Linked DNA regions of Homo sapiens: region 2 is linked to region 1. Evidence: fine-mapped expression QTL. A gene starts in region 1. The other region holds a variant in brackets. All regions are shown on one strand. Distances are between the middles of the regions. Region 1 holds the start of CYTH1 (cytohesin 1). Region 2 overlaps CYTH1 (cytohesin 1).

What was found.
Region 2: its variant is fine-mapped to the expression of CYTH1 in whole blood (TOPMed, PIP above 0.99).

The regions. Positions count from the first base shown.
Region 1 is chr17:78,779,164-78,784,524 of GRCh38, reverse strand. CYTH1 (cytohesin 1) reads left to right here and starts at 2,252. Exons shown (of 14, transcript NM_004762.6): 1 at 2,252-2,323. The coding sequence starts at 2,302. RefSeq lists silencers at 1,993-2,152, 2,193-2,472, 2,733-3,132 and an enhancer at 4,151-4,250.
Region 2 is chr17:78,672,242-78,677,602 of GRCh38, reverse strand. It overlaps CYTH1 (cytohesin 1), which reads left to right. Exons shown (of 14, transcript NM_004762.6): 14 at 1,434-3,555. The coding sequence ends at 1,512. Among named protein-coding and RNA genes, the nearest start is that of SCAT1, 43 kb to the right of the region's middle. RefSeq lists enhancers at 401-900, 901-1,402, 1,666-2,544. The variant T/G (reference allele first, on the strand shown) is at 2,874.

The DNA of each region.
Region 1 (5,361 bases):
GGACTACAGGCGTGTGCCGCTATGCTCGACAATTTTTAATTTTTTGTAGAGACAGGGTCTCTCTATGTTACTCGCGCTGGTCTTGAACTCCTGCCCTGAAGCAGTTTTCCTAGCTTGGCCTCCCAAAGTACTGGGGTTATAGGCATGAACCACTTCACCCAGCTGAAAAACACCAGTCTAATGGAACAATATAAGGGAACAGAATTTGTAAACAGTCATGTTCTCTGCTAATCTGTGATTAGCAGTAATACCAGTATCCCTCCCTCTCCAAATCTATTCAGTTGGTGAGTTCAGCTAAGAGGTCTAGAGTGCTGATAGTAAGAATTAACATGCCATCTGAATCGCTTTTCTTCTGGAGTTCTGGTCTTTGAGCAAGAGCTGAGGTGGTCTGGGACTTGCATACTGATAAGGGAAGAAAGCCAGCTCGAAGATACCTTGAACCTTCTGGTGAGTCTGGGGTTAGAAGTGAAGTAGGGAGTGAAACAGAGGATGGCAAATACTGGGGGAGAGGCTCAGTGCTCCATTAGCCCATGTGACAGATGGTTTGAGAAGATTTGCCAGGTCAATGTGGGGTCAATTCTAAAAGTGTCCTAAGTCTAGGCCAAGAGGAACAAAATGCAGCTGGGTCTCTGACCTCACACGCCGAAGCCCAAGGACACGTTAGGGCCAAAATGTGACTCTCTAAGGTCACCTGTAAAACTGGACAATCTGGTAAAGTCAGTGAAGGTTAAGATCATGAATCCAGCCAGGCGTGGTGGCTCACGCCTGTAATTCCAGTACTTTGGGAGGCCAAGGAAGGAGACCAAAGAGAAAGGATCACTTGAGCCTAGGAGTTCGAGACCAGCCTGGGCAACCTAGCAACCTCCGTCTCTACAAAAAATACAAAAATTAACCAGGTATGGTGGCCGGTGCCTGCAGTCTCAGCTACTCAGGAGGCTGAGGTGGGAGAACTGCTTGAGCCTGGGAAGCAGAGGTTGCAGGGAGTCATGATGGTGCCACCGTACTCTAGCCTGAGCAACACAGCGAGTGAGACTCTGTCTCAAAATGAATAAATAAATAAAAGAAAAAGAAAAATAGTAAAACTCAGGACAGGTGGGCCCACAAGGAAAGAGTTCTGTGGCTTTTACTCCCGTTTTTTGGTTGGTCCAAAAAATTCCCAGCAGTCCAGGGATCTCTGTGGAGTTCTCAGTGAGTGTTCTGTGTAGGGTGCAGGAGCCACAAGTGACTGCAGGGGGAAAGGGGGGTTCTGGTGCTGGCATTCTGCAGCAGTGGGATTGTCCTCTGTCATAAAGAAAGAGAAGGCCGAGCGCGGTGGCTCATACCTGTAATCCCAGCACTTTGGGAGGCCGAGGCAGGCGGATTATTTGAGGTCAGGAGTTCGAGACCAGCCTGGCCAACATGGCGAAACCCCGTCTCTACTAAAAATACAATTAGTCGGGCCTGGTGGCACATGCCTGTAATCACAGCTACTCAGGAGGCTGAGGCAGGACAATCGCTTGAACCCGGGAGGCGGAGGTTTCAGTGAGCCGAGATCGGGCCACTGCACTCCAGCCTGGGCAACAAGAGCGAAACTCGTCTCCAATAAATAAATAAAATCCAAAACGCTGGGACTTGAAGTGCCCTCCTTTCAATCTTGACCCAGGTAAAACTCAGGACAAATAAAAAGAAGTAGAAGCAGTAAACTTAGGACATACAGCATGTAAAGGTTCTGAACGCAGGAGTAAATGACTTCAAATAGCTTTTGTGGCCTTTCGCCAAGGACCGGGCCCTCCCTGGCAAGCTGGGGCCGGGTCTGACCTTCCAGGTTGGCGTCAGCAAGGACCACCCTGCCCTTCAGTGGCCGGACACGACCTTGGGCTTTCGTGCAGTAGCCTGGCTGCAGGCCAGGTCGAGTCCGCCACCCCGGGGACTTGCACCGCCCTTCAGAAACCGAAACCTGCTCGGCCCCAGGAGGCGGACCGGGAGAAGGGGGGGGGGTGTGTGTGTCTCGGGACGGGGGCGTGGTCTAGAGGCGGGGGCAGGGGAGGAGCCTCGGGTGGACGCGCGTGCGCAGGCCGGAGCCTCGGGAGGAGGCCGGGTACCCGGGGTGCGGCGCGCGCGGGAGGAAGGCGGGGCCTCGGGCGAGGGGCGGGGCCTCGGGCCGGGGGCAGGGGGCGGGCGCAGGCGCAGGCGCGGGCGGGCGGGGCGCGGGGCGCGGGGCGCCGGGGGCGGGGCTCCGAGCCGGGCTGAGGCGAGCGGGGGCGCGGGTGGCGCGGCGGGACGCGAGCGGCGAGCCGGAGCGCGGAGCCCGGCTCCCGCACCATGGAGGAGGACGACAGCTACGGTCAGTGCGCCCCGGCGGCGGACGCTTCCCCCTCGCTGTCCCCCAGTCCCCTCCGGGCCCGGCCGTCCGGCAGCGCTTGCGGCGGCTGGCGTTTCCCGGGGACACTGGTGCGGGACGCGGAGCCCGGGGCGACCGGCGGGCGAGCGGTGCGCGGGGCCCTCGCGGGGCGGGGGTCGCAGGGGGTTTTGAGGGATGAGGGTCGCCGGGGCCGGGGTCGCTGGCGGCGCTGAGGGATGTGGGTGGCTGGGGCGGGGGTCACAGGCCGGGCTCGCGGTCTCGCGGGGCCAGGGGTCGCCGCGAGCTCTGAGGAATGAGGGTCGTTGGGGTCGCGGGGCAGGATCTCAGGGGCTCTGAGGGATGAGAGTCGTTGGGGTCGCTGGGGTCCCCGGGGCAGGGGTCGCAGTCCGGGTCCCGGGGGGCCGAGGGGTGGAGGTCGCTGGCCCTGCCGCCCCTCTGCGGGGCTCGGGGCGGACGCGCGGATGGCCGGGCCCGCGTTCCCCGCAGTTTCCGGCCGCTCTCGGCGTCAGCGAGTTGTGCCCGGTCCACGTCTTTGTTCAGAAATGAGAACGGGGAGCGGCGCCGCCGGCGAGGCGCGGGCTCCGGGACGGCCCTGCCCGCGGGAGTCTGGGCCCGGTAGCCGCCGGTCCGGTGCGTCGCCGCCTGCCGAGACGCGGGTGTGGAGCCCGAGGGGCACCGCGGTGGGGACGCCGCTCCTCCCCTGACTGGGGACTTGGCAAGCGGAGCCGCTGTCCCGCTCCCTTCGCTCCCGCGCGTTGAGGCTGCTGGCCCAGGCCAGGGGTGCCTCCCTCCAAGAGTTTGAAATTGCAAGGGTTGCAAAAGGTTGTTTGACATGCTGTAGTTAATTTATTAAGTTTGTTCATGAGGAATTAAAAGGAAGAATGGCAAATAGAACAAGTGGTGAACTTTTGTGGTTTGGTAGCAAAGTACAAATAAAGCAGAACTCTGTGGCCAAATGGAACCCAATTCTAGTTTAATAACTAATGGGACATTTTTCTTTTTTTTTTTTTTTTAAGAGACGAGATCTCGCTCTGTCACCCAGGCTGGAGCACAGTGGCGTGATCGTAGCTCACGTCAGCCTCTTGAGTGGCTGGAACCATACGCACGCCACCATGCCCGGCTAATTTTTTATTTTATTTTATTTTATTATTTTATTTTATTTTATTTTATTTTTGAAACGGAGTCTCACTCTGTCGCCCAGGCTGTAGTGCAGTGGCGCCATCTCGGCTCACTGCAACCTCGGCCTCCTGGGTGAGCTGAGCGATTCTCCTGCCTCAGGCTCCTGAGTAGCTGGGACTACAGGCGCGTGCCACCACGCCTGTCTAATTGTTGTATTTTTAGTAGAGACAGGGTTTTGCCATGTTGGCCAGGCTGGTCTTGAACTTCTGACCTCAGGTGATCCACCCGCCTCGGCCTCCCAAAGTGCTGGGATTACAGGCATGAGCCACCGCGCCCAGCCCTAATTTTTTACTTTTTTAAAAGATGGGGTCTTGCCATGTTACCCAGGCTGGTCTTGAACTCCTAGACCCAAGCAGTCCTCCCACCTCTGCCTCGCACAGTGTTGGGATTACAGGCCTGAGCCACCACACCCAGCCCACTTGTTACCTTATAAGTAAACAAGTAAAAGCAGCTTGTGCATTTTTTTGTTGTTTGTTTTGTTGTGTTTTTGAGACAGGGTCTAGCTCTCTTGCGCAGGCTGGAGTGCAGGGGCGCTCTCATAGCTCACTGCACGCTCTGCTTCCTTGGCTCAAGCAATCCTCTCACCTCTCTTCTCAGCCCCTCCTGTAACCTGGACTACAGGCCTGGGCTACCACGCCCTGCTAATTATTTTTATTTCTTTTTGTAGAGAGGGAGGTCTCCCTATGTTGCCTAGGCTGGTGTGAACTCCAGTTCCTATCTTGGCCTCCCAAAGTGTTGGGATTACAGGCATGAGCCACTGCTCCCAGCCTCCTTTTGTGATTAAAAGAAAAATCACCCACTGGCTGGCCCCAAAAGATTGTTCAGCCCCTCCAGATTTCACTCCTGCCCACTGCTGAGAAGCCGACAGCAGTTTTGCCTGCTGCTCTTTTCTCTGCCTCCTCTTGCCATTTAATTTCCCTCAGATCCCAGTGTCCTGCCTACCAGGCTTTTGTGGCCTCTCTTGTGTTCTTGCCTGCTGCCGTGGGCAGGAAGCTATTGGTCTGGTTGCTTTTAATACAGTGACTGCTTTGCCACCAGGCATGACATGAACTTGTACTTGAAAGAGGTAAGTGGAAGCAGGGCGTGTTAGTTTCCTATACCTGTTATATTACCACAAGCCTGGTGGCTCAAAACAACATAACATTTGTTTTAGGGTTCTGCTGTCAGAAGTCCAAAATAGGTCTCACTGGGCTAAAGCCAAGGTGTCGGACAGGCTGGTTCTTTCTGGAGGCTCAGGGGAGAACCCATTTCCTTACCTTTTCCAGCTTCTAGAGGCCACCTGTGTTCCATGGTTCATAGTCCCCTTTCCATCTTCAAAGCCAGCAGGTAGCATCTTCTCATTTCTCTCGACCTCCTACCTCCCTCTTATTAAGATCCTTGTGATTATAGTGGGACCCACCTGGATAATCAAGGCTAAGGATTAGCAACCTTAATTCCATCTGTTACCTTAATTCCCCTTCTGCCATGTAAGGTAACCTATTCACAAGTTCTGGGGATTAGTACCCGGACTTCTTTAGGGGCTGTTATTCTGTCTGCCACACACGAAGATGAGAAAGTTTGTAAGTTTATTCTTCCCCTTTCTTTTTTTTTTTTTTTTTTTTTTTGAGATGGAGTTTCACTCTTGTTGCCCAGGCTGGAGTGCAATGGCGCAATCTCGGCTCACTGCAACCTCTGCCTCCCAGCTTCAAGCGATTCTCCTGCCTCAGCCTCCTGAGTAGCTGGGATTACAGGCATGCGCCACCACGCCTGGCTAATTTTGTATTTTTAGTAGAGACAGGGTTTCTCTGTGTTGTCCAGGCTGGTCTCAAACTCTTGACCTCAGGTGATCTGCCTGCCTAAGC
Region 2 (5,361 bases), 110 kb after region 1:
TTCACGCTGTACCCAGAGGTACAGCAGTAGAACTGCGTGTCAGCGGTAACAGCGGCTGCCATCGAGTGTGTCGGCTAGGCGCTGAGATGTGCTCTTTGAATATGGGATCTCTTTTTGACTCTCCGGAACCCAGGGAGGTGGAGGTGGGGCATCTCCAGCTTGCATGTGAGGAAGCGGGAGTTGAGAAGCAGCAGGCAGGGCCAGGCAGGGCCGGGCCTGGGGCCTGGTGTCCGACCGCAGCCCAGCCCCCCTCATCGCCTGACACTCTGCCTCTGCACACAGGGCAGTGCCACACGCACCTCTCTGCAGAACCCCCCAGCTTACCCGAAAGGGTTGGCCTACCCAGGAAGCCAAGGGAGATTCACCCCAACACCTCCAAACATGAAAGCAGGTGTCCCGGCCGCCAGATTCCCTCGTGAAAGCACTTCAGGTGGTCAGACCGCTTCCCAGTGAGATCCCATCGGGACATGTTTCTAGTGCTCTTCAGTTCCTAGCATTCCCCGGGGAGCTGCGGAAGCATTTTCTCATGGACACACTGTCTCTTGTGAATAGGTTCCAGGTCAGCCCAGGAGAGCCATAGCAGCTGCTGGTGCCACCGTTCAGCAGGGGTGAGTGCCCTGCCTGCAGTCAGGAGGCTTGTGCCCGAGCTCTGGAACAAATCATCACTTAGGATACAGCTTCCCTGGAAAGAAATTAAGTGTCAGGACTTTTAGACCATAAGTTGCTTGAAAGTCGAGAATGGCAGACATAGGGTTGTGGTGTTGCCAGTCCACTGCAGGTGCTCCAGCCCGCGGCGCGGCCTGCGCTGCTGTCTTTGAGGCTGTAGCACAAGCATGAGCTCGGGCCCCCTCCCTGTGCACCGGAGACCCAGCCAGGTCCAGCCGGTCTGTCCATGGTGCCCCACCAGCAGCATCGTGCTGGGCAGTGCCGCCTGCAGAGTCATGGAGCCTTAGTTACTGAGCAGGTGCACGTGGGGGGCTTGGAAGGCCCCACTGCATTACCATGCCAGCTATCACACACCCCGTGCCAGAGGACTGCATGTGACACGGCTTGATTACGTGGCACTCGCTGCTGCAAAGCAAAGTCAGATGTCATCATGGAAACTCAAGCACCAGTCTTTTTCTCTGAATTGGAATATAGCTGTAAGAATGTGGTATGATTCTGTTCCTAAATGTGAATTGATTATTATGTTGAAACAGGTAAAAACCCCAAAATTTTCTTGTCACGTGTTCCTGTGTCTCTTTCGAAGTGTGTCACCTTAGGTCACTGTGTGGACACAGCAAGGGTGGAGGACGCTAACTTGGCCTTTGCAGTGATGGTGGGGTGGGACAGGTGTTCTGGGGCACGAGGGGCCCCTGAGAATCCCCTGCCTGGGTGTGTTTCTTCTGATTCTGTCCCTCACGTCTCTGTTTTCTCCCTTTTCTGTGCTCCAGAGCAGCCATCAGCAGGGACCCTTTCTACGAAATGCTCGCAGCACGGAAAAAGAAGGTCTCCTCCACGAAGCGACACTGAGCGTGCAGCCAAGGGCGTTGGTCTGCGGGGGCCTTGGAGCTCCTGCTCTTCTCCCGCACCTCCATGGATGCACTGCTGCCGAGCAGAGCGTCCTCTGCCAGGCCCCGCCCTGGATTCCTAGAGACTAGCTTCAGCTTTTGCTATTTTTTTTAAGTGGGAGAAGGGTGGGCAGTTATCACTGGGGAAGAGAGGACCGGCCACCTGTCCAGCATGGGCTCCAGAGCCTTCCTCTCTCACAGGGCAGAGCTCTTGTCGGCAGGGCAGCCTCCTGGCCAGTTTCTCTGCTCAGTGTTCTGGTAGCAGAGCTCAGAGCCAACTGTTTACCTCTTGGTTGTCCCCGTGAAGAAGCCTTCAAACCCTGCACCATAAATACATGTGTCCATATATTATTATATGTTAAGAGAAAAAGGTGGAAAGGAAGAGAAGCCACATACTATAAAGATCTATTTTTTTTTTTTTAAGAGAGAACGTAGGGCTGTTCAGGTGCATTCTGCCCTGGCTGCGCTGGGGAGCTTCTCCCTGGAGAAGAGCACCTGGGGCTGCGGCCAAGGGGCATCAGCCTGGGCCCGCGGCAGGGCCTGGCCTGCCTCTCCTGTGCTGTGGGAGCTCGCTGCCTGGTGCTTGTCTGGGCGAGATGGACAGGTGAGGTCGAGGACGCAGAGGGCAGAGGCCCAGTGGAGCCTCAGACGGCACAGTCAGAGTCGGGGGCCTGCCCTGGCCGGGGTCGCAGTCGGCAGCAGCGTGCAGTCCGGCATCTCCCGCGGATGCTTTTCCATCCCAAGTGCCTGCGGAGCGCCGAGGAGAGGAGAGAGCTGACTGGACGCTTACGTTATTTTCCTCCTTCAGAATCCAAGTTCTTGTTGGGCTTTAAAGTAGAAAGTCAGCATTTTCCTTGAGCTAAATACCTAATAACCAAAACTGTGAGGAAGGTTATCGGGACAGAGGTTCCGGATAACCTGTTTCATTTTGGGTTTTCTTCCTCTTCCCCAGACTCCAGTCCTCGTTCTAGAGGAAGGAGTAGGACTTCCCCGATCCCCGTAGGGCTTCAGCTTTTTCTGCCTCAAAACCAGCCCTAACTGGACTACTCTGGATGCATTTTGTGGTGGGCCCCCTAGAGGGGAAGATGGGCCTTTATCTGCTCCGTGGGGTGCACTGGAGTGAGGGGGGTGGCCGGGCTGCCTCTCGCATCTCTGTCTTCCCCTGCAGGCGCTGTGTGAGCTGGCCCTGCCCCTCCTCATTACAGTATGAAGGGAGCCGTGACACGCAGCATTTTCCTGCCGTTCTCTCAGGGACTCTCAGGGCAGCTCCTGCCACTCCGCCAGGGCCAGCATGCCAGTCCAGGCAGAGCAGGTGGCTGGCTG[T/G]CTGGCCGTCTCGCCCCGCCCCTCCACAGGACCCTGGACCAGGGCGGTGCAGGGCGCAGCCCTGAGGAGGCAGGTGGAGGAGCTGCGGGTTTTCACAGGGCCGCGTCGCCACGGCTCCTCTGATCCTTTAGGGTTGGCGAGCATCTCTGGAAATAGCTTTTGCAGAGGAGTGGTGGGAGGAATAGAGGGGGACAGTCTGTCACCTCCCTCCCCGCCACTTTGTGTAGATCCTACCTGGAGGGAATGGCTTTAGGCACTTTTGTGCCAGAGCTTGTGAGGGTGACAGAAGAGGGTCCAGGCTGGAAACCTGAACTTTCTGGGTGGGAGAACCAGGTGGTGCCTGCCGAGGTCTGGGCGTGTTTGGGCCGGTGCTGGAGCCTGTCCAGCTGGCCCGGGCCCTGGCCTGGTTCTCAAGTGTTTCCTAGACAGAGAGGCACCTGGGTCAGTATTAGTCTATTTATCAGAGGTGTAAATAATCTATGTATAGTTTTTCTCCTTTTAGATTATTTTGTATTTGTTTAAAAGAAGTTTTGTCAAAATACAAAAATATAAAGAAATGACTGAAAGTTGTTGACAGGGTTTTTAAGAAATAATTATTCTAATTGTTTTTGTTTGTTTGTTTTTGCCTTGTAAACTAGCGCCAAGGAACTGCAGCAAATAAACTCCAACTCTGCCCAAGCCATCTTTGTTGTTCGCGGTGTCTCTGGGCTCAGGCGGGGCCCTCGAGGTGGGAAAGGGGTGCTGACCGGACACTTGTGCAGGAGGGTGTTACTCCAGCTGCACCTTGAGTTCAGTTGTAACACCTTGAAAGTGGGAGGAGGGTTCTGTCTTCTGTTAAGAAGAGCAGAGTCAGAAAAGATAAGTAACTTAGTCTTTGCACCGCCCCCACTTTTTTAGAAGAAACGTGAAACATCAGTTTTAAATTAAGATCAAGAAATATGCCTTCAGTCAATATAATACATTTTTAGTATGATTTCAGTTTCCAGAGATGACTTCATAATGCCAGGGAATAAACAGGGAAAAGTCTCAGGTGGGCTAGAACCCAGAAGCAGGGGAAGGCGCTTGGTGAACCAGCACCGAACAGAGAGACAGCAAAGCACCAGGCTGGCCCCTTCTGTGGGTCCATCTCCACGGGCTGGTCCGCGTTCTTCCACACAGCAGCAGTCATGCCTGATGTTTCCTCCTTGCTTCAAGCCCCCAGTCTACCCTGACCATTCCCCAGGTGACTGCCCCACTTTACTGAGAAGAGACGACCATTAGGTGTGAAGGGCAGCATTCCTACCTTTCCACATCAGTCAGAGTTGTTTTTGTTCCCTCCCATCGCCAGAAGAAGTGGCCTGCTTTTTTCCTGTCTCCCCTGGATCCATCTCTGTCAATTATCCTTTGTCTTATACATATCCCCAGTTTCTTTCCCCATTAATTTCTTTCCCTCAAACCACAGAAACGCCCATCTCATTTGAAAACTCCCTAAGCTCAGGAACAAGACAGAGATGTCCACTCTTACCACTTCTATTCAGCATTGTACTGGAGGTTCTAGTCAGGGCAATTAGGCAAGAAATGAAAGGCATCCAGATAGGAAAGAAGAGAGATTACATTTATTGGCTGGTAACATGACTTCATAATGCCTAGCTGAGCCATGGGAACGGGGCCACTCCCAAGGCTCCAGAACTGTGGGACCACCAGCTTGCCGCCCCAGCCGGGAGAGCTGTATGTAGGCACTAGATGCCATCCTGTGACAGCTGCGGCATGGGCAGAACCCAGCACAGGGTGGGGCTGCTCCTGGCCTTGGGGGATCACATTAAGATGAGTCAGAGATCATTCTGGAGTCTTAAGATTTAATGTCTGCCCTATTGGGTTTCAGACTTACTTGGGATTGGTTATTCTTTCCTTCTTGCCCTTTTTTCCCTTTTGGAATGGGAATGTCTATCTCATGCCTGTCCCCCAGTGTATTTTGGAAGTGCATAACTTGTTAAATTTCGAGGCTCTCAGCTGGAGGGGATTTGCCTCAGGATGAATTGTTCCTTGAGTCTCACTCATATCTGATCTAGAGGAGACTCTGGACTTTGGACTTTTGAATTGGTGCTGGAGCAAGTTAGGACTTTTGGGGCAGTCGGGATGGAATGAATGCGTTTTGTACTGAGACTGGCGAGTGTGGGGGAACCAGTGGCAGAAAGCTACAGTGTGAATATCTGTTCCCTCCAAAACTCATGTTGAAATGTAACTGCCATTGTTACAGTATGAAAAGGTAGGACCTTTAAGAGGTGTTTAGCTGAACTAAGGAAAAATCCTGCAATAGTAATACATCCACGAAGTTATTAAAACGCCAATAAAATCCATTTGAGAACAGTTCATCACCCCAAAGCACACCCTGTCTACTCATCAGCAGCCTCTCCTCCTCTTCCCCTGGTCCCGGGCAGTCCTAATGGTTCTGTCTATGCACTTGCCTCTTCTGGGCATTTCATACAAATGGAATCATACACTACATGGG